Homo sapiens: one gene and its partners. The protein of the gene in region 1 interacts with the protein of each later gene in a pairwise test. Each region holds a gene or a part of one and is shown in the gene's direction. Other genes may lie near its edges.

The links. Proteins that work in one complex are often made in the same cells at the same time.
Region 2: the proteins of PMM1 (region 1) and RAB6A interact in binary tests that used the Homo sapiens proteins (3 or more experiments, as listed by UniProt).
Region 3: the proteins of PMM1 (region 1) and RAB6B interact in binary tests that used the Homo sapiens proteins (3 or more experiments, as listed by UniProt).

What each region holds. Positions count from the first base shown.
Region 1 is NC_000022.11:41,586,795-41,594,646, reverse strand, and holds the start of PMM1 (phosphomannomutase 1), read left to right. Parts: upstream 1-4,806; 5' UTR 4,807-4,841; coding exon 4,842-4,928; intron 4,929-5,483; coding exon of another isoform or gene 5,484-5,595; intron 5,596-5,879; coding exon of another isoform or gene 5,880-5,988; intron 5,989-7,852. UniProt on the Homo sapiens protein: Involved in the synthesis of the GDP-mannose and dolichol-phosphate-mannose required for a number of critical mannosyl transfer reactions. In addition, may be responsible for the degradation of glucose-1,6-bisphosphate in ischemic brain.
Region 2 is NC_000011.10:73,757,999-73,766,122, reverse strand, and holds the start of RAB6A (ras-related protein Rab-6A), read left to right. Parts: upstream 1-5,048; 5' UTR 5,049-5,487; coding exon 5,488-5,557; intron 5,558-6,027; exon of another isoform or gene 6,028-6,075; intron 6,076-8,124. UniProt on the Homo sapiens protein: The small GTPases Rab are key regulators of intracellular membrane trafficking, from the formation of transport vesicles to their fusion with membranes.
Region 3 is NC_000003.12:133,892,807-133,899,829, reverse strand, and holds the start of RAB6B (ras-related protein Rab-6B), read left to right. Parts: upstream 1-3,947; 5' UTR 3,948-4,363; coding exon 4,364-4,433; intron 4,434-7,023. UniProt on the Homo sapiens protein: The small GTPases Rab are key regulators of intracellular membrane trafficking, from the formation of transport vesicles to their fusion with membranes. Rabs cycle between active GTP-bound and inactive GDP-bound states.

The sequences.
Region 1 (7,852 bases):
TGGTTGTGTTCGTGGTCTCACTGGCTTCAGGAGTGAAGCTGCAGACCTTCGCAGTGAGTGTTGCAGTTTATAAAGGCAGTGTGGACCCAAAGAGCGAAAGAACAAACCTTCCACGTTGCGGAAGGGGACCCCAGAGGGTTGCTACTGCTGGCTCCTGGCAGCCTGCTTTTATTCTCTTATCTGGCCCCCCACCCCCACCCCCGCCACCCCCCGCCCCCACCGCCCCCCCCACCCCCGCCACCACCCCCGCCCCCACCCCCACCCCCCCACCGCCTCCCCCACCCCCCCACCGCCTCCCCCACCCCCCCACCCACATCCTGCTGATTGGTCCATTTTACAGAGAGCCAATTGGTCTGTTTTACAGAGAGCTGATTGGTCCGTTTTGACAGGGTGCTGATTGGTGCCTTTACAATCCCTGAGCTAGACACAAAAGTTCTCCACGTCCCAACTAGATTAGCTAGTTACAGAGTGTGGACACAAAGGTTCTCCAAGTCCCCACCAGAGTAGCTAGACACAGAGTGTCGACTGGTGCATTCACAAACCCTGAGCTAGACAGGCTGCTGATTGGTGTGTTTACAAACCTTGAGCTAGATACAGAGTGCCGATTGGTGTATTTACAATCCCTTAGCTAGACATAAAGGTTCTCCAAGTCCCCACCAGACTCAGGAGCCCAGTTGGCTTCACCCAGTGCATCTTGTACCGGGGCTGCAGGTGGAGCTGCCTGCCAGTCCCGCGCCGTGCGCCCGTACTCCTCAACCCTTGGGTGGTCGATGGGACTGGGCGCCATGGAGCAGGGGGCGGCGCTCGCCGGGGAGGCTCTGTCTGCGCAGGAGCCCACGGCAGAGGGTAGGCTCAGGCATGGCGGGCTGCAGGTCCGATCCCTGCCCAGCGGGGAGGCAGCTAAGGCCCTGTGAGAAATCGAGCGCAGCGCCGGTGGGCCGGCACTGCTGGGGGACCCGGCGCACCCTCCACAGCTGCTGGCCCGGCTGCTAAGCCCTTCACTGCTCGGGCCGGCACGGCCTGCCGCTCTGAGTGCGGGGCCCGCCAAGCCCACGCCCACCCAGAACTCTAGCTGGCCCGCAAGCGCCGCTTGCAGCCCCGGTTCCCGCCCGTGCCTCTCCCTCCACACCTCCCCGCAAGCCGAGGGAGCCGGCGCCGGCCTCGGCCAGCCCAGAGAAGGGCTCCCACAGTGCAGCGGCGGGCTGAAGGGCTCCTCAAGCACGGCCAGAATGGGCGCCGAGGCTGAGGAGGCACCAAGAGTGAGCGAGGGCTGCTAGTACGCTGTCACCTCTCATCACCTTTCATAGTTCTATCACGTGGGGTTTATATCCTCATTACATATAAAGAAACTGAAGCCCAGTGAGGAAAGGTGACCTGTCCAAGTCCTTGTAGTTAGCCAGGACCAAACTGCAGTTCTCCTGATTCCAACTCCAATGATCTCTCCAGGACACCATAGCTACCCAGTCAGAAAAACAAGAATTGTGCCTGGGGATCTGGTGCGGTGGGTCAGGCCTGTAATCCCAACACTTTGGTCACGCCTGTAATCCCAACACTTTGGGAGGCTGAGTCGTGAGGACCATTTGAGGCCAGGAGTTTGAGAGCAGCCTGGACAAAATAGTGAGACCCTATTCTACACACACACGTGCACACGCACACAAACACAATGCAGATTTTCATGGCTTCGTAGCATTTCATCTTCTAGATGGGTCTTAGTTCATTTAAACAATTCCATATATTTTTCCTTTTTTCTATTTTCTTTTCTTTCTTTTTTTTTTGAGACGGAGTCTGCTCTGTTGCCCAGGCTGGAGTGCAGTGGCGTGATCTCGGTTCACTGCAAGCTCCGCCTCCCAGGTTCACACCATTCTCCTGCCTCAGCCTCCCAAGTAACTGGGACTATAGGCACCCGCCACCACGCCCAGCTAATTTTTTGTATTGTTAGTAGAGATGGGGTTTCACCGTGTTAGCCAGGATGGTCTCGATCTCCTGACCTCGTGATCCGCCCACCTCAGCCTTCCAAAGTGCTGGATTACAGGTGTGAACCACCGCGCTTGGCCTTTTTTTTTTTTTTTCCGAGTCAGAGTCTCGCTCTATGGCCCAGGCTGGAGTGCAGTGGTGTGATCTCGGCTCACTGCAAGCTCCGCCTCCCGGGTTCAAGGGATTCTCCTGCCTCAGCCTCCCGAGTCGCTGGGACTACAGGTGCCGCCACTACGCCTGGCTAATTTTTTGTATTTTTAGTAGAGACGGGGTTTCACCACGTTAGCCAGGATGGTCTCGATCTCTTGACCTTGTGGTCTGCCTGCCTTGGCCTCCCAAAGTGCTGGGATTACAGGCGTGAGCTACCGCGCTCAGCCTCTTTTCCTATTTTCTAAAAGTTGAATTGCTGACTCATATGATCTGCATCTTTTTTTTTTTTTTTCTTGAGACAGGGTCTCACTACTGTTACCCAGGCTGGAGTGCAGTGGGAAGATCTGGTTCGTTGCAGCCTCAGCTTCCTGGTGATTCTCCTACTTTAGCCTCCTGAGGGACCACAGGTGCCTGCCACCATGCCTGGCTAATGTTTTGTATTTTTAGTAGAGACAGCATTTTGCCATGTTGCCCAGGCTGATCTTGACCTCCTGGGTTCAAACAATCCACCCACCTTGGCCTCCCAAAGTGCTGGAATTACAGGTGTGAGCCACCGCATCCAGCTCTACAGTTATTTTTTATTTATTTAGTTAGTTAGTTAGTTAGTTAGTTTGTTTGTTTGAGGTGTAGTCTCCCTCTGTCTCCCAGGCTGGAGCGCAGTGGCATCATCTCGGCTCACTGCAACCACCGCCTTCCAGGTTCAAGTGATTCTTCCGCCTCAGCCTCCCAAGTAGCTGGGATTACAGGCTCCTGCCACCATGCCCGGCTAATTTTTGTATTTTTAGTAGAGACGGACTTTCCCCATGTTGGCCAGGCTGGTCTCAAACTCATGACCTCAGGTGATCTGCCCATCCCGGCCTCCCAAAGTGTTGGGATTACAGGCGTGAGCCACCGCGCCCAGCCTGTTACTTATTTTCATGTGAAAAGCAAACCTACAAAGCAGGTGGTGTTCATCCCATTTTATAGGTGAAGACACAAAGCCTCTGAGAGGTGAAGTGACTTGTCCAAGGTCCCATAGTGGTGGAGCTGGGAAGGCAACCTGGAAGTGACTCCAAAGTCAACGCAATGGTTAAATAATTGTGAATCGAATCTGGGAAGGTTGGCTGGGAACGGTGGCTCATGCCTGTATTCCCAGCACTTTGGGAGGCTGAGGCAGGCAGATCACCTGAGGCCAGGAGTTCGAGACCAGCCTGGCTAACATGGTGAAAATACAAAATTACTACTAAAAATAAAAAATTAGCCGAGCGTGGTAGTGGGTACAAAATAATCCCAGCTACTCGGGAGGCAGAGGTTGTGGTGAGCTGAAATCGTGCCATTGCACTCCAGCCTGGGCAACAAGAGCAAAACTCCGTCTCAGAAAAAAAAAAAAAATTAGCCGGGCGTGGTGGCGCACTTCTGTAGTTTCAGCTACTCAGGAGGCTGAGGCAGGAGAATCACTTGAACCTGGGAGGCGGAGGTTGCAGTGAGCCGAGATCATGCCACTGCACTCCAACCTGAGTAACAGAGTGAGACCCAGTCTCAAAAAATAAATAAATAAATAAATAAATCGCCCTGTGTCAAAAATAAAATAAAATAAACATAAAAGTAAGTAAAAATACAAAAATTAGGTGGGCATGGTGGCACACGCCTGCAGTCCCAGCTACTCGGGAGGCTGAGGCATGAGAACCGCTTGAACCTGGGAGGTGGAGGTTGCAGTGGGCAGAGATCCCGCCACTGCACTCCAGCCTGGGCAGAGCGAGACTCTGTCTCAAAAAAAAAAAAAAAAAAGAAGAATCTGGGAAGGTCTCCAAGCAGGTAGACCCTGAGAGCTGGGTCTTATGTGTGGACAGAAGGAATAAGGCTCGGGGAAGGCAATTTGGCAAAGTCCAAAGCCTGAACAAAGGCCTTCAGGAGATTTCTTTTCTTTTCTTTTCTTTCCTTTTTTTTTTTTTTTTTTTTTTTTGAGGCTGGAGTGCAATGGCGCGATCTCGGCTCACCGCAACCTCTGGCTTCTTTGGAATCAAGCGATTCTCCTGCCTCAGCCTCCTGAGTAGCTGAGATTACAGGCATGCGCCACCACGCCTGGCTAATTTTGTATTTTTAGTAGAGACGAGGTTTCTCCATGTTGGTCAGGCTGGTCTCGAACTCCCGACCTCCGGTGATCCGCCCGCCTCGACGTCCCAAACTGCTGGGATTACAGGCGTGAACCACCGCGCCCGGCTCAGGAGATTTCCTACAGCTCAAAATTTGTAAGGCAAAGAGATGGCCACAAACCTTGTGAGAGTGGATGGGGAGCGACCTCGGCTCTCTTAGTCCCGCCTGGCCCACTAGACACTGCACTGCATGGTAGAGGCCCCGCCCGACCCAGCCCCTTAATCGGCCTGTTGCAATCACTATCAACCCGCCAATTCTGGCCCCGCCCCTGTCTTCCGGGTTCACCCTCTCACTTCCTGCGGGTCCCAGGCTCAGGCCCCTCCTCCGCCTTGTTTGGAGCAATCCAATCGAACCTGGAGGGCTCCGCTCCGCCCTATGCCGCGCTCCCCTCCTCCACGAGCAATGAGAATCAGCTCAGGCCCCGCCCCCGCTTCCGCCCGCCTAGACCACGCCCCTTCTTCATTTGGCCAATCAGGCAGTCCACTGGCCCCCGCCCCCTAATGCCCCGCCCCGTCAGCACTTATCCCTGAGCTGCTTCTGCCGTTGCATCTTCGGGACTCCGCCCCGCGCGCGGACCTGCAGCCATGGCAGTCACCGCCCAGGCAGCCCGCAGGAAGGAGCGCGTCCTCTGCCTGTTTGACGTGGACGGGACCCTCACGCCGGCTCGCCAGGTAGGACCCTGAAGATTGGAAGCTCCCACCGGGAGTGTCACGCGGACACCCCCGAGGCTGAGTGTGGGGTCTGCAGCAGCGTGACCGTGGACACCCGGGGACCGAGTGTGGGATGCGGCGGTACCCGGCCCCCTGACATCCGGGGCCACCCACCGGGAGTGAGGGGACCTGGCCCTCACGTCACTGACCCCGCAGCGTCCTTGCCTGTGTTCTGCTTGGGAGTGCTGGGGTTGGATCCAGTACTGGAGGGAGGAGGCTGCGAGCAGGGGCCTAGCTCCCTCCCTCCCCGGAGGCTGTCACACGCCGCTAAGGCCTGGCTCACGGACGCCCCCGCCTCCTGAGCTGGGGATCCCACCCTAGTTCAGCCCTACGACACACCAGTGGTCGGAGCTGGCTTCTGAACCGGGGTTCCAGGCACACAAGCACACAGCCAAGCGTCAGTCATCATCTGGTGGGAGACAGGGCGTCTCGGAGTCTTCCCACCCCGACCTTTGCAGGCCTGGGACTGGGTCTAGTTTCTGAAGCCCCATCACCCACTTTACCTTCCACCCCCAGTCGTGGAGCAGAGAGGGCTTCTTTTCAAATTCGTTTATGAGCTCTACCCACCCGGATGTGAGAGGCTCCAGGCCTAGCCTGTTTGCTGTGAGGACACTGAGGAATAGTGAGGGTAAGAGTCTAGTTTTCTTCTAAAGACTCTCGCTGTGTTGAGCCTCTTACCTCTGCTCAGTTTTTCTCCCATTGGGTCTCATTGTGAGTGAGTCCCCAAAAGCCCCCTCACCAGCTGGATGCATCAGTAAGCAGGCTTCATTCATGCCCTCCCTGTGGGTAACCCACCCTCCAGTCTGGGGGCCTCAAGGACCAACCAACAGGTCTCCTAGCGTGGGGGAGCAGTGGGATGGGCTTTACTGGGCAGTGGCTGATGGGAACCCAGGTCTTAGCCTCCTCTCTTAGGTCCCGAATGCCCCTCCCCATCCTCTGTGGTGAAGTTGCCCTGGCTTGGGCCCTGGAGGCCTTCCTGCAGGGGTGGATCCGGGAGGAAGATAGCAGGACTGGAGCAAAGGTGGGCCATTTGCTTGTGGGTCACGCCTGTAATCCCAGCACTTTGGGAGGCCATGGTGGGCAGATCACCTGAGGTCAGGAATTCTAGATCAGTCTGGCTAACATGGTGAAACCCCGTCTCTACTAAAAATACAAAAATTAGGCTGGGTTCAGTGGCTCACGCCTGTAATCCCAGCACTTTGGGAGGCCGAGGCAGACAGATCACGATGTCAGGAGTTTAAGACCAGCCTGACCAATATCGTGAAACCCTATCTCTACTAAAAATACAAAAAATTAGCCAGGCGTGGTGGCATGCACCTGTAATCCTAGCTAGTCGGGAGGCTGAGGCAGGAGAATCACTTGAACCCGAGAGGCAGAAGTTGCAGTGAGCCGAGAATGTGCCATTGCACTACAGCCTGGGCGACAGAGGGAGACTCAGTCTCAAAACAAAACAAAACAAAAAGTAGATGGGCGTGGTGTCGTGTGCCTGTAGTCCCAGCTACTGGGGAGGCAGAGGCAGGAGAATCGATTGAACCCAGGAGGTGGAGGTTGCAGTGAGCCAAGATTGTGCCATTGCACTCCAGCCTGGGCAACAAGAGTGAAACTCCGTCTCAAACAAACAAATAAATGAATAAAAGAACTGGAACAAAAGTGGCAGGGCCTAGGCACAGTTCTGACTCCTCCCTCTGACCTTTTGCTCCACAAACATAACAACCTGAATAAGAACAGCCTATTAATTTGTCTACGGGCCAGCCTCTGTGCTTAGTGCCTTTTGAAAGTTAATTTTTAATCGTACACATTTTCATGAGCACACTCTCCTGGTAAAGAATGGAAACGTAACAGAGAAGGGTAAAGTCCACTCTGACCGCACTTGGGGAGCCTGGCCGGCTCCCCAAGTTAATGTGGTTACTGTGGTGTGGCTTCCCTCCAGGCCTTTATCTGGATCTATTTGCCCAGAGCAAATATTAAGCATTGTTTTGTGAGGCTATTTTTGTTATTGTTCTTTGGCTCCTCAAAAATCAACTTGATTGTGATGCTATTTTGTTGTTGTTGTTGTTAGAGACCGGGGTCTCACTCTGTCACTCAGTCTGGAGTGCAGTGGCGCTATCACAGCTCACTGCAGCCTCGAACTCCTGGGCTCAAGTGATTCTCCCGCCTCAGCTTCTGGAGTAGCTGGTAGCTGGGACTACAGGCAAGTGCCACCATGCCTGGCTAATATCTTTTTTTTTTTTTTTTTTTGGAGATGAAATCTCATTCTTGTCCCCCAGGCTGGAGTGCGATGGCATGATCTCGGTTCACTGCAACCTCCACCTCCCGGGTTCAAGGGATTCTCCTGCCTCAGCCTCCTGAGTAGCTGGGATTACAGGCGCTTGCCACCACGCCCAGCTAATTTTTTTTTCTTTTTTTTTTTGAGACGGAGTCTCGCTCTGTCGCCCAGGCTGGAGTGCAGTGGCGTGATCTCAGCTCACTGCAAGCTCTGCCTCCCAAGTTCACGCCATTCTCCTGCCTCAGCCCTCCCGAGTAGCTGGGACTACAGGCGCGTGCCACCACGCCCGGCTAATTTTTTTGTATTTTTTAGTAGAGACAGGGTTTCACCATGTTAGCCAGGATGGTCTCAATCCCCTGACCTTGTGATCCACCCGCCTCGGCCTCCCAAAGTGCTGGGATTACAGGCGTGAGCCACCGCGCATGGCCAATTTTTTTTTTTTTTTTTTTTTAATTTTTAGTAGAAACAGAGTTTCACCATGTTGGCCAGGCTGGTCTCGAACTCCTGACATCAAGTGATCCACCCTCCTGGGCCTCCCAAAGTGCTGGGATTACTGGTGTGAACCACCGTGCCAGCCCATGCCTGGCTAATTTTTAAAAACTTTCGGCCAGGCACGGTG
Region 2 (8,124 bases), on another chromosome or scaffold:
AAGACACATAAAAGCATTATTAAATATAAAGACATTTATTATGTTACTAAAAAGAAATCTAGGCGGCCAGTTCCAGGGCTGGTACAGCGGCTCAATGATGCCTTTTAGCTTTCTGCTTAGCCGTCATCAATGATTGGCTTTTTTCATTAGAATTATATATTAATGTTCGGCCGGGTGCGGTGGCTCACGCCTATAATCCCAGCACTTTGGGAGGCTGAGGCGGGCAGATCACGAGGTCAGGAGATCAAGACCATCCTGGCTAACACAGTGAAACCCCATCTCTACTAAAAATACAAAAAAATTAGCCGGGCATGGTGGCAGGCGCCTGTAGTCCCAGCTATTCGGGAGGCTGAGGCAGGAAAACGGCGTGAACCCGGGAGGCAGAGCTTCAATGTTCAGAAGAGCTATCTTAGCTCTAAATATCATGTCCTTACACAGCTACATCAATGGCAGAAAAATGGCAGTTTTTTCTCATTTATTCCTTTTCATCAAGGAAGAAAATATGTCTCTCTATCTCTCTTCTTCTCTTAGAATAAAAAAAGCCTCTAGCACATTTCCTTCATCTCCCACTGGCTCAGATGGACTCATGTGCCTATAACTTAGCTGAAGGGAGGCTGGAAACACATCTGTCATTTCTAGTATATATGGTGGAAGTATGTGTGTGTGTTATGTGTGCATTGCTGGATATGCAACCACTAGTGTCTGTCACTAAGAATAAGATGAAATTGACTGGGCGCAGTGGCTCACGCCTGTAATCTCAGCACTTTGGGAGGCCAAGGCAGGAGGATCACTTGAGGTCAGGAGTTTGAGACTAGCCTGGCCAACATGGTGAAACCCCGTCTCTACTGAAAATACAAAAATTAGCTGGACATGGTGGCACACTTCTGTAATCTCAGCTACTCAGGAGGCTGAGGCAGGAGAATCGCTTGAACCCAGGAAGTGGAGGTTGCAGTGAGCCGAGATCGGCCACTGCACTCCAGCCTGGACAGAGTAAGACTCTGTCTCCAAAAAGGAAAAAGAGAAATTTCAGCCAAGCACAGTGGCTCACGCCTGTAGTCCCAGCACTTTGGGAGAGCAAGATGGGCAGATCATCTAAGGTCGGGGGTTCGAGACTAGCCTGACCAACATGGAGAAACCCCATCTCTAGTAAAAATACACAATTAGCTGGGCGTGATGGCACATGCCTGTAATCTCAGCTACTCAGGAGGCTGAGGTGGGAGAATTGCTTGAACCCGACAGGCGGAGGTTGCGGTGAGCCGAGATCACGCCATTGCACTCCAGCCCGGGCAACAAGAGCAAAACTCTGTCTCAAAAAAAAAAAAAAAAAAAAAATTCAGTCCTCCTGCAAGAAGTTTTGTGTCTCTCAGGGCAGAAGATAAGCTATAATTTTATTACAATTTCTGTGTGATAGATTCCCTACATACTCCTGGGCTTCAATTTAGATATGACCTTTAAATAGATAATGAAAGCTGCTTTAGGTACTTTGAATTTGGAGCTGTGAAGACTGTCCTCTCCCATTGTTCCTAATTTTTAGTTACAAGATCTGTTCTCAGCATCTTTTTCATAAGTAATGGTTTAGGAAAGAAGTATCAAATTACATGACATATTTTTGGGTAATGTTCTCTTTCTCCAAAATGCTCTTAACCTTCCTTCTCTGCATGCCCAAATCCCATTCATCCTTTGAAGACAGTGAAAAATAATTCCTCTTTTATTTGATTTTGTCAGCAAACATCTGCTGCATGCTTACTATGTAGCAAGCACTCTTCAAGCACTGGGGATACAAGATGAGATCTGACCTCGTGGAGGTTACAGTCAAGTAGGGAACACTGACAATGAACAGCAATTAAGAATAGGATACAATAGGACAGGCAAAGGTACTTATACTGTTAGTGGGGATGGGAGCAGATGGGAGCAAGACTTGTGTGGTAGACTGAATGTTTGTGTCTCCCCAAAATTCATATGTTGAAACTATAGTCCCCAATGTGATGGTATTAGTAGGTGGGACCCTAGGGAGGTGATTAGGTCATGAGGGTGGAGTGCTCATAAATGGGATTAGTTCCCTTGTAAGAGGGAGCCCAGAGAGCTTTCTTGCTCTCTTTCTGCCATGTGAGGGCACAGTGAGAAGATGGTTGTCTATGAACCAGGAAGTGGGCCTTCACCAGACACAGTATCTTCTGGTACCTTGCTCTTGGACTTTCCAGTCTCCAGCTGTGAGAAATAAACATTTGTTGTTTAAGCCACCCAGTCATGGTATTCTGTTATAGCAGCCTGAATGGACAAAGACAACTTCTTTAAGTGGTAAGTGATTTAAAAGAAAAAAAAAAAAAGACAATTTCTTTAACTGAAGGATGAGTAGGAATTGGGGAAGAGTGGGGAAGGGAGGGGAAGAGTGTTTGCAGTAAAGAGAAGTGAGCGTAGGAAATCATGAAGGTGAAAATGTTGGTGAAAATACTCTTGAAAAGGGCCTCTCTAATTCCTCTTTCTCCTGAGTAATTTTTCCATTTGCTATACCCTACAGCACTTAATATGCAATGTTTAGGCCATAAAGTCTCTGAAGACAAAACTTACACAGAGTACTTGGTAATATGAAGGCAGCTTCAGAGGATAATGAGGCTGTGTATGTGTCAATGCAAAATGAAAGCTTAAAACATTAAAACATTTTAGGTAAGAGGTGGACTAGACCATAAGGCCCTTCAAAATGACAGGGAACAGTACCACCTGTCTAGGTGACTACAGAGACCAAAGCAGCAGGGAGGACTGATTCATAAAGTTCTGTAGGAAGTACAAAGTAATTATAGTTCCAATCCTCAGATGTTACTTTAAAGTCTATTTCAGGAAGCATAATGAAAACTTGGTACCCATCAGAAAGAAAATAGCTACTCACTTTTGTTTGCATAATCTTTTTAAAAAGTTTCTTGGTTTAAGCTGCTCTTTGTATGTGCCAGGGTTCTGGGTTAATGGTGGAGAGGACCCTATTAGATCTGACAAACTACTTGTAAAATCAAATGTCCATGCTACAAGCCAGGTTTTTACCATTTTATTTTAGATGCATGTTCTACCTGCACATGGCTGGGAGAGGAACCAGAAGGGAGTAAATTTTGATAGAGATGGTTTGAGGATATAGCTGTTGTCTTGATAGGCCAGAATAGATGATATTTTAAGAACTTTGGTTCTTCCCTGTAATTTATTCTAGGTCAGCAATTCATCCCTGGGCCTGAGAAGGCACTTTTTCAATCCTGTCATTTCTACAGCTAAGCAAATAACTCCCCAATAATGAGAAAAAGTACATAAATGTTTTGTGAATGATATACACAAATGATATACATTTGTGTATAGACACAAATGTAAGGACATATTTTTTATTATTCACTTAGAAAGTTTTTTTGTTTTTTTTTTTTTTTTTTAAGACAGGGACTTGTTCTGTCACCCAGATTTCAGTGTAGTGGTGCCATACCTCAGCCTCCAACTCCTGGACTCAAGCAATCCTTCTGCTTCAGGCTCCTGAGTAGCCGGAACTACAGGAGCACACCACGATATTCGGCTATTTTATTTTTTGTAGAGATAGTGTCTTGCTTTGTTGCCCAGCCTGGTCTCGAACTCCTGGGCTCAAGCGATTCTACCGCCTCGGCCTCCCAAAGTGCTGGGATTACAGACGTGAGCCACCGCGCCCAGCTGCTTTATGGATTTTTTTTTTTGGAGACAGAGTCTCGCTCTTGTTGCCCAGACTGGAGTGCAATGGTGTGACCTTGGCTCACTGCAACCTCCGCCTCCCGTGTTCAAGCGATTCTCCTGCCTCAGCCTCCCAAGTAGCTGGGATTACAGGCACCCGCCACCACACCACGTTAATTTTTTGTATTTTTAGTAGAGATGGGGTTTCATCATGTTGGCCAAGGCTGGTCTGGAACTCCTGACGTCAGGTGATCCACCCAACTCAGCCTTCCAAAGTGCTGGGATTACAGGGATGAGCCACCACGCCCGGCTTTTTTTTTTTTTTTTTTTTTTTTTTTCTGTTGAGATGGAGTCTCGCTCTGTCGCCAGGCTGGAGTGCAGTGGTGTGATCTCGGCTCACTGCAACCTCCGCCTCCCGGGTTCAAGCGATTCTCCTGCCTCAGCTTCCCGAGTAGCTGGGACTACAGGCGCGCGCCACCACCCCCAGCTAATTTTTGCATTTTTAGTAGAGACAGGGTTTCACCATGTTGGCCAGGATGGTCTCGATCTCTTGACCTCGTGATCCACTCGCCTCCGCCTCCCAAAGTGCTGGGATTACAGCCGTGGGCCACCGCGCCCAGCCCGCTTTATGGATTTTGCAAGTCATTTACTCCCTCTAAGCTTCAGTTTCCTCATCTGCAAAATTGGGAGGCCATGATTCTGGCAGTTATAACATTCCTGGGAGCAATGGAGGAGAATGTTATTTAGTAAGATGCCTGTGAGGAATTATGATGAGAGGATGGAGAAGGTGGGGTGTGTGCAATGGTGAAGAAGGGATCTGAGGACTGTGAGGCACGGCTGAGGGCTCAGGAAAGAGGCTCCCATTACAAATTTTAAGGCTATAGGACCCCACCCACACTTTTTGGGGGATCATATTCCACCTTTGTCCCGGCCCCGCCTCCGCCCCACCCTTCTCCCCCTCCCCTTTCTTTCCTTCCCCTCCCCTCAGGCTGAGAGGCGCCACACTTCTTATGGCCGCCACAGTGCTCCGCTTTCCACAGCTCGAGGGCTGCGCGCGCTCTCACGCTGCCACCTCACTCGCGTGTGGGCTCGCCCTCAGCCCCTTCCGATTGGCTCATTATGTAAGTGACGTAAGGGCTCCAGCCTCCCACTAACTTATCCCTGGCTTGCCCCGCCTCCTCCTGGCTTCTTTTGACGCCAGTGGAAACCTAACCTGCCCCGTCGCCGCCGTGCGGGAGGAGCCGGTAGAGCTGTCCAAACCAGGAAGGCGATGGCGATGGCGGTGGCGCGCACGCATGCACGCACGCACGCACGCCAGCGGCCGGCGGGGCCGCAGGCTCGCGCCCGGGCTCGCCCCGCGCCGCTCCAGAGGCTCGCGCACTCAGCAGGTTGGGCTGCGGCGGCGGCGGCAGCTGTGGAAGCTCAGGCGCTGCGCGTGAGAGGTCCCAGATACGTCTGCGGTTCCGGCTCCGCCACCCTCAGCTTCTCTTCCCCAGGTCTGGGAGCCGAGTGCGGAAGGAGGGAACGGCCCTAGCTTTGGGAAGCCAGAGGACACCCCTGGCTCCTGCCGACACCGCCCTCCTTCCCTTCCCAGCCGCGGGCCTCGCTCGGTGCTAGGCTACTCTGCCGGGAGGCGGCGGCGGCTGCCAGTCTGTGGAGAGTCCTGCTGCCCTCCAGCCGGGCTCCTCCACCGGGCCTTGCAGGGGCCGAGAGAGCTCGGTGCCCGCCCTTCCGCTCGCCTTTTTCGTCAGCTGGCTGGAGCAGCATCGGTCCGGGAGGTCTCTAGGCTGAGGCGGCGGCCGCTCCTCTAGTTCCACAATGTCCACGGGCGGAGACTTCGGGAATCCGCTGAGGAAATTCAAGCTGGTGTTCCTGGGGGAGCAAAGCGGTGAGTGCGTGGCTCCCCTACTCCTGGCAGCTGGCCGCAGCGTCCCCGCACCGCCCCCGGTGCGGCCCTTCCGTCCGCGGAGGCTCCCTGCCCGCCTCGCGTCCGCGCTCGTTGCCACCGCAGCCCTTCCCGATGTGCCCCCCGGTGCCACTGGCTCTTCGCCAGTGGCCGAGTTTTTACCCTGTTCCCCGGGTTCTTCAATCCTCGACTCCCCGGCTCCGTTCCCCGCAGTCCGGCCATCTCCGGTCGATCTGCCCTCCCTCCCCAGACCTCACCCCGCCCAGCCTCTTGTCCATCCCTTTCTTCCTCCGGTCTCGGTCATTGCCCGTACCCCGGCCCCCTTTCTTGAGCCCCACCCTTATTCCTTGCTCTTTTCCCAGTTCCTCAGCTCTGTGAGGCCCACTCAGGGAAGCCCCACTCCCGAGAGCGGGCCCTCTTCAACCTTGGCCAAGGAGGGTGGGATCTGGGCGTTGTTTTCCCCAGAGGCTTGGCCCTGCGAAGTGCTGATGTCGTGGAAGGTGGGAAGGGGTGGTAGTAGAAAAAATTAAATGATTTTCACCTGGGTGGGAAATTAGTCTGGGCCATAGAGGAAACATCTGAATTGGAGACGACTTGAGCATGGGGTGGTTGGGGGTGAAAGGGGTAGCGTCGGCAGTGGAGATTTTTGCCCCTTAGGTTAGATGGGGCTGTGGCTTGTCGGAAAACCTCATTTTGTTCTCTTGACTTTCATCACTGACAATTCTTTTGGCAATGTTGATGATTTTTCAATCTCTGCCAGATGCTATGTCATGATCATTTTACTTGGAATTTTTCTCATCTCACCTCCCCTTTTTCTCTTTTCAACATGAAGCAGCGTCTGAGTCTCATGGTGGTACAAAAGGGAATTACTGGGGAAATGTTAATTATTCATTCCTTCTTGAGTATTTTCCAATGATATATTGAGGATTCATGTGAGAGAAGGCTTGGAATAACAAACATCTTTGTTTTGTCGGATTTCCTTTGGAAAATGGAGTAGAGTAGGAACAGACTCATCATCTAGTTACCTAAATTAGATTTAAATACCATTTGGGCTAAATAATTCTTTTATGCTTAATATTCTGTACTGTCTGATGAGTGAAATTGTTATGTCATTTACCTGGTCAGGTTCTGCTGTCACTGTACTTTTGTATTAGATACTAGATCCTAATTTTGTGATGGTTGTATCTACGATTACTTCTTGTAGTAATTCCAGTTTTATGCTGTATTATACAAACTTGACACTCGACAATTCAGAGATGATTACCCTCCTTTGTTTTTCTCATACTTTGCATGCCCATCTTTAAAATTCAGACATTGAGAGATTAGTTCTGAGTCATCAAACATTGAGTACCTACTAGGTGTTTTAGGTGAGGTTATAGAAAACATTAGTTATTTGTTTTGACTGGAAGGCATGTAAGTGATATAAATTCGTAGCTTTTATTACTACTTTGAACTATTTATACTAATTTGTATGCCATCACAGAGGTTAATACTCTTGCAAAATTGCCTCCAGTTAGAACTGGGAAATCATTTTTCTCCTTTCATGTGTAGATTATCTTCCCCTCCTCCCTTTTGGGGGGAAAAATACAATCTCCCTCCTTTTTGCTTATATATTTTCCTGAAGTAAGTATAAACTTGTGTCTTTAGGTGAGTAACTTGGTAGAACCTATGGAGTTGCTTCTAGTCCAGCTTTTCTGTGTCAATATCAGGATAGTTCCCAAACATAAAATATAGTTTATTGGTTATTATTGATAAAAAGGATCCAAAGTGCTTATTGTGCATTCTAAGGATATTATTGCCTTCCTTATGTTGTGATGCACAGCTATTTAGTTTGCATGAAAAAACCTATTCATCTTCCTGCCTAAAAAGGTTTTAGCATGAATGGAGTGCTTAACTTCCTAAGTATCTTCAGGTTTCCTTTGAATTTCTTGAGTATTTGTGTATGTTCTAATGCATAATGGAGAGTTTTATGGCTTCTAATTTCGTACCTTGTTTAAGCCTCTACTACCCTCCCCCCTCCATTACTGAAGCCTGGTTAGATTTTTTTTAATAGACTTCATTTTTTAGAACAGTTTTAGACTTACAGAAAAATTGAAAAGATAGTGTAGAGTTCCCATATACCCACACATCTAGTTTCCCCTGTTATCAACATCTTGCATTAGTATGGCACATTTGTTAACAATTAATGAACTAATATTGATATGTTATTATTAACTTAAGTCCATAGTTTATTTAGATTTTTAGTTTTAACCTAATGTCCTTTTTCTGTTTCAGCATTCAATTCAGGATGTGAAGTTAATTATCTTTTGAGGTTACTATATTGTCAAGTAATGCCATTCATTAGCTTTGACAATGAAAGATTGATCTCTGTTTTCATGGTCAGTGTCTATAGTTTTCTTATGCGTTAGAAGTCTGTAGACTCCATGTCCTTTTGATGTAACTCTTCATGAATTATTTATTTTTAGGTCTGTTAGAATTCCACAATTCAGCTTTCAAAGACTGTAATCTATGGCAAAGCCTTGTTTCTTCTTAATAGCATTTACCACATT
Region 3 (7,023 bases), on another chromosome or scaffold:
TTGAGACATTATATAAAATTCAAAAGATGCAAAACAAAAAAGTATTGTTGGAGGACACATCCAAATGTGATAAAAACTCAAAGAAAAGCCACAGTTCTGGATTTTCAAGCTGGGGAGAGAGGGAGGGGCAGAAACACCTGAGGGCCTCAAAAGTACTGTAATATTTGAGTGCTCCAGCCAGGTGAAGTGAAAAAAACAATCCCAAAGGGTGATATACTGTGTAATGCCACTTATATAAGATTCTTGAAATAACACATTTATTGAAATGAAGAACAGATTAGTGGTTGCCAGAGGTTAGGAAGGGGTTGAGGGTGGGAGGAAAGTGGGTGTGGCTATAAAAGGGGAACATGAGGGCTCTTTGTGTGTCAAGGTACAGAACAGAAATGTACCTTGACTGTCTTAATTCCAGTATCCACATTATGATACTGTAGTATAAAGTTCTGCAAGATCTTACTCTTGGTGAAAACTAGATAAAGGATATACAGATCTGTCTTTTTTTTTTTTCCTGTTTGTGAATCTACAATGATCTCAAAAATTTAATTTAAATATATATATATATATATATAACACAGCAAAGGGCTCAGGAAAACCAAGATCTTGAAGAAAATGAAAAATATAGATGATGCTGTAGTGCTATATGATCTAACGAATATCTTTGAAAAATAGTTTGGCACAAAATTAAACGTACACTTGTTTTTATACCACAATTTACCTACTGACACATATCTTAGAAAAACTTCACAGAGGCATCAAGAGACATGTAAAGAATGTTGATGGCAGCATTGTTTGTTAATAGCAGAAACAAAACTGAGTGCATTTTCCAATGTTAATTTCCTGGTTTTACTAAGCAATGTGGTTATGTAAGATGTTATCACTGGGGTAGCTTGGTGCAGGATACATAGTAACTCCCTGCACTGTTTTTTATAACCTCTATGTGAGTATAAAATTATTTAAAATAATTTTAAAAAAGGCCAGGCGTGGTGGCTCACACCTGTAATCCCAGCACTTTGGGAGGCTGATGCAGGCGGATCACGAGGTTAAGAGATTGAGACCATTCTGGTCAACATGGTGAAACCTCGGCTCTACTAAAAATAAAAAAATTAGCTAGACCTGGTGGTGCGTGGCTGTAGTACCAGCTACTCGGGAGGCTGAGGCAGGTGAATTGCTTGAACCTGGGAGGCGGAGGTTACAGTGAGCCGAGATGGCGCCGCTACACTCCAGCCTGGTGACAGACCAAGACTCCATCTCAAAAATAATAACAACAATAATAAAATAAAATAAAATAAAAATTTTAAATGACACATTTTACAGAAAATCATTTAAAAATTGGGGCATAACTAGAATACTAACCAGCAGTGAAAATGAAAGAACTGCTGCTACATGAATTAACAAATGGATCTCAGAAACATGATGTTAAGAAACATGCAAGTCAGGACAGAAAACACAGTTTGATACCTTATATAAGATTCAAAAGATGCAAAACAAAACAAAGTATTGTGAAGGACACATCCAATGTGATAAAACTCAAAGAAAAGCTAAGATTCTGGATTTCCAAGTTGGGGAGGGAGGAAGGAGAAGAAAGCACCTGGGGGCCTGAAAAGTACTATAATATTTGAGCCCTCCAGCTGTGTAGAGGGTAAATGGGCACTCAGAGTGATAGGTTTTCTTTGTAACTTACATATACACAGCACATACTAAATAGGAAGATTTAAAGAATTTTTTTAAATGGAATGCACAGATTCTATGATATGGAAGAAACTCTTTCTAGTGAGGTTGCCAGGCTGAGGTTCAGTGGCCCCATTTTCCACCTGGAGAAAGTCTGTCTGCTTTAGGGCAGGTTAAGGACAAGACTCAAAATCAGGGGAGATAAGCAATGATAGTTGGAGGAGAGAGACTTGGAGCAGAGCAAACTTGGAGTCTCTAAGGCTCTCATTTCCACAGCATGATGACTGCATTCTGAGAGCAATGCCAGTATCTGCTCCAGCGACGTGAGCCCGGTAGTCGGAGCCGGGTTTTTGTCATTTGAACTGGAAGAATTATGACAGAGTCCCCCAAAGTAAGCTGGACCATAGTCAGCCCAGCTGGACCTGGTAAGCATATGGGATGACTTGGAGGCTTAGAGGTGCCCAGAGGGGCCCTGCCCCAGCCCTCCCTCCCCTACTGCCATACCACCTTACATGTGCGGGACCAGATGATCAGAGGAGGTACAGGACCTGCCTAGGCTTACCCAAAAGATGGTGCCTTTTCTGGCACACCTCAGCTGTTTTGTCTTGCCACCGATGATCTCATCAGGTCAGGATGAGAGGGTACAGGGAGACAGCACTAGATGTTAGGAGAAGGTGCAGGTTGGAGGAGTGTTGCATGGCTGGGTACCTTGGCCAGTAGCTCACTGGCCCTTCTTTGGAGGGATCACTTATAGAGACGGGAAGGGCTGTGACTTGGGAGTCTCCTCTCCTTTCAGAGCTTTCTTCAACCCCAAGCTGGATATGGTCTCCTAAGAGAGCAGGAGCCCCAGAGAAGTGGGTGGGTGTCTGGAGGGTTACCCTGAGCCTGGTGCCAGCCACAACGGGGCAGATATTCTAGGTGATGACTTACAATCCCTGGGGTTCCAAACTAAAGGTAATTATGAGAATAGGACAGTTATTTTGATTTGAGTTCTAGATGTTCATTCAAACATTCAACAACTATTTCTTAAACTCTGAGCTATGTCCTTGGGATGCAGTGGTGGAGCTTCAACTACTGCTTTTATGGAACTTGTGGTCAGGTTTCTAACAAGAAATAGGAAAGAGATTCGAGGTGAGCACACCAGGGAGACAGATAGGCTTGCCCAAGCAAGCCCCATAAGTCAAAAAGGGGGTAACAAGTGTCCACGAGAAATCTGGAGGTGAAGGTTGTGTCTCACTCCTCTTTCTCTTTCTATAACACATGCGTGCACACACCATCGTGTTCACCGACATGCAGATTATTATCTCAAATAAATGCTCACTGAACAGCCATAAATGAACAAGACCACGCTGTGGCAGAACAGTAAGGGACAGCTTTGTAAAACCTCAATTAACCAGCATGCCTTAGGCTCGGGCTGTCTTGGGAGTGTTTCTAGCACTTGGCGTCTGCTCTTTGCTCTCACTCACTCACAACTTGGTCTGTGTGCCTCGATGGACCAGGCAAGTAGAGGCCAAGGAGAGGTCGCCCACATGTCCTCAGATAGCTCATTGTCCAGATACACCTAATTGCCAGGGTGGGGAGTGGCATTGTCAGCCTGGCGACCCCGGGATCAAGAAACGCAGGGCACTGTCCTGGAGATAGTGGCACTGGCATTCAGAGCGTCACCGTTCCTTCTCTCCCATGGGGCAGGTTAGGATTTGGCATAAAATGATCCAAATGAGCAGCTGGTTTGAGGTAGGCGCGCCTGATATTGGCAGCTCCTCTCTCGCTGGCCAGGTCTGCGGGGGCACCCACAGACTCCACAAGAGGCCGCCCAAATAAAGGGTCTAGGCCTCGAGAGGGAAGGGCGGGCTAGAAGCCACGGGGGGCAAGAGTCGAGCCCCATCTGCGCCAAGTACGCCAGGTTTCCCTAGGTCTGACCGCCCTGACGGGCCTCGCCACACCCTGGCTCTCCCCCACCTTCGTTCCTTTCCGCCCTGTCGGTCGGACGACTGCGCTGTGCATCGGTGTCTCGCGAGGTGGAGGAAGGGACTGGCATCTAGGTTTAAAAGACCAGAAACAAATGTCCCCTGACAATTTCTGTCATTTTCTGGATTCAAAAGAGGGGTAGAGTGGGGAAGACAGACGCAGCGGGGCAGCGAGACACGGTCCCCCCCGGGGGGCTCTCAGGGGTACGGCGAGGAGGTTCTCTCCTGCCCGGGTGCGGGCTCGGGTGGGCGGGCGCACGCCCCCCAGCCCCGCAGCCCCGCGGGCCCCGCATGACATCAGAGGCTGGGGAGCGCACAGAGCGCAGGCGCCGGCGGAGGAGGCAGGCGGGAGGGGGCCGACTGGCGCGGCTCTGGAGAGCGCTCCTCCGCCCCGCGCGCCGTCCCTGCGCCCCGCTCCGCCCGCGCCTCTCTCCCAGCGCCGCGCCTCGGGCGTAAAGAGCGCGCCCCTCGCACCGCAGCCAGTGCCGACCGCAGCAGCCCAGCCCCAGCCTTCCTCCGCCTCCGCCTCTCTCTCCTCCTCCTCCTCCGCCGCCGGACACGCAGCCGCAGGCCGGGACCGGGACGCAGCTGGGGAGTCAGGGACGCGCGCAGCCAGCCCTTCCCCCTCCGGCTCCCGCACCGCCGGCCGCCTCCCCTCGCCCTCCTACTCTCCCCTCCCTGCTCCTTCGCTTTTTCCTCCTCCTCCTCTCCCGGCCCCGGCTGCCAGCACCATGTCCGCAGGGGGAGATTTTGGGAATCCACTGAGAAAATTCAAGTTGGTGTTCTTGGGGGAGCAGAGCGGTAAGTACCCGGCTTAATCTCTTGGCTTGTCGCCGAGTCGACCCCCGCCGCCCAATCGCCCACCCCATTGGGACCCCCGGCCCAGGCTCGGAAAGGCCCCTCCTTGCCAGGGTAGAGGAGAGGGACAGGGATGGGGAGGTCGGGGCGGGGTCGGGCTGGGGAGGGGCCAAGGGTGAGGACGGAGGAGGCGCTGGAGCCTGGGGTGGAGGTGAGGGTGGGCTCTGGGTGGGGGGCCCGGGGTGTGGGTGCAGGTGCGGCGCTGCAGGGGGCCCGGAGGGCGGCGGCTGGCTCCGCGGCGCTGGCCAGGGCGTGAAGGAACCGGGCTCGCTGGCTAGCTCACACTGCGGCACCGGCTGCGGGCGACCGCGCAGGTGGCTGGGTGCTGGCGGGGGTGGGGAGAGCGACGGGCGCCCCCCTTGGAGAACGAAGCGAAGCTGGGGTCTGGCCGGGCCTCACTCCGCTGCACTGGAGGGGTGTTCCCTGCGGACCCTGCTGGGAACCATGCGAAAGGGCACGTCCAGGGCGTGGGACAAACAGCCACCGGGGAGAAAAGAGCGACACCTGTCTCTGCTCGAAAGAGCGAGTGCAGGCCATGGGGGAACGGGGAGCCTACCTCCCCTGGCTCACGTCCGACTGGGCACAGAAGGTTCTAGACCCGCTGCCCTTCGCCGGCGCTTGTTAGTCTCCTTGCTGCCCAGGGATCTGGGCAATTGCAGTGAGGGCTACCCCAACTCGAGGCGATTTGGGGAATGATACAGGGGCACCTCACACCGAGAGGCTGTGAAGTCTGGCTCTGGGCAGAGAAAGGCCCAGGCGACACGCCCTGCCTAGCTTCCCAGCACTCCTCCAGAGAGCATCGGTGGATTCTTCCCACCCCCACCTCCCAGCTCACCGCCCTTCTTGGGGGAGGGGAGGTCACCCTGGCAGTCGGCCAGAGCTGGGGGAGGGGGAGACTGCTTCTCCGCTGCCCGGCTCCCTCCCCAGGAAAACATCTCTGAAAACCAGGTTAGTCCCTAGAGGCGGGAAGCCCAGATTGAAGGGCAGGGACCCCTCTGCCACCTGTAGGAAGGAGTGGCTTTCAGAGCATCCCTCCAGAGGCCTCTCGCATGGGGCTGCAGGGAGACAAACTGAGCTCTGGTCAGCTCTGCTCTGGGAGAAGGCTGTCCTTGCGGGACAGGACCCCAGCTCTGCCTCTGCAGACCAGTCCTGTTCACCTGGGTTGGTGCCTCTCTGACAAGGGGGCCCAAAAGAAAGGCAGCTGTGGGAGGACTGGGTGGGCCCAGGAACAGTGCTACTGTGCTGTGTGTACATGAGGGTTATGGAGGTCACGTGGCTGGCTCTTGTCTGCTGATACTCATTGCCTAAGATGGATGGTTCAGAGAAGGACGTTAGAAGGTAGTGTCCAGGCCCAGTATGGAGATGGGTTTGGGGGACAGGCTGGGCATTTCAGAAGAAGATCCACTCAGCCAGCCAGCGTTTGCCCTGGATTCTGATTGCCTGTTTTTAATAGATCCCAGTTTCATAGAGCTGACCATACCCTGTGTCTGGAAGGGATTTTGGTGGTATTCACATCCCAGTGCTAGTCTCACCCGGCCTGGAGCCCTGGGAGATAACCTGCAGGGATCAGGCAGCCTGGGGGTTGAATTCTTAGCTGTGTTGTCTTTAGTAAAATTTGAGGCCTCTCTGTGACTCACTTTCTGTCTCTGAAAAATGGTTGCTTGAAGACAATTCTCTTACTTCTTCATGTTTCTTTAGTGCCTCTCAAAGTGCCTGGCCCCTGGTAGGTTCTCAGCAAACATTTGTTCTAAGTCTGCACAAGCTTCAGAAAGGACTAGGAGTTTGGTGAAGAAAGTGTCTCTGGTGAGTTTGAGGGAACATCTGGGCTCCTTCAGAATCCCTGATGAACGGAGGCCCCTGCTGGGCTCCACAGACCCCCTTTGCTCCCAAAATCACAGAAATGAGAGCTGAAGCCTAAGAAATGAACCCACCACCTCTCCCATATGTTCAAATGGGAAGTCTGAGCCCCAGGGAACAGGGAGGCCTTGCCTGGAGTCCCAGAGTCCCATTGTGAGTTGCTAATGCTTCTGGGCTGGAGCCCCACCTCTCATTTCCAGTCCAATATTTTTCACTAGCGTGTCATTGTGAAGTAAGATGACCTTGAATTGGGGAAGCCAACAACTGGGGAGCCTCCCCAAGAGGGAGTAAGGGTTGCTTCTGTCCAGCCAGGCTTATAGTTGGGGCTTGTGACTGGTAGGAATGCTGAGTAGTTGGTAAGGAGCAGGGTTGTGAGCCCTTGGAACATGGTCATTAGAGAGTCACTGCTATCAGTGAGATGGGCTGCTGGCCACCCTGGTGCCTTCTGTCAGGGAGTCCCAAGGCCCTGAAAAGCCTGTTTCCAATTTGTTGCATTGTTAGTGGGTTCTTTTAGGTTTTACACAGCTTTTGAGTTAGGTAGGGGACATGTATGTGCATCTCTAAGCCTTATGGGATGGGGAGTCACCTCCACAGCCGCTTCTTCTACCTTGCCTGCACAGTTTTGCATCTGTTGGTCATTTGTGCCAGCATTCTCTGCAGCCTGTGCAGTGGAGAG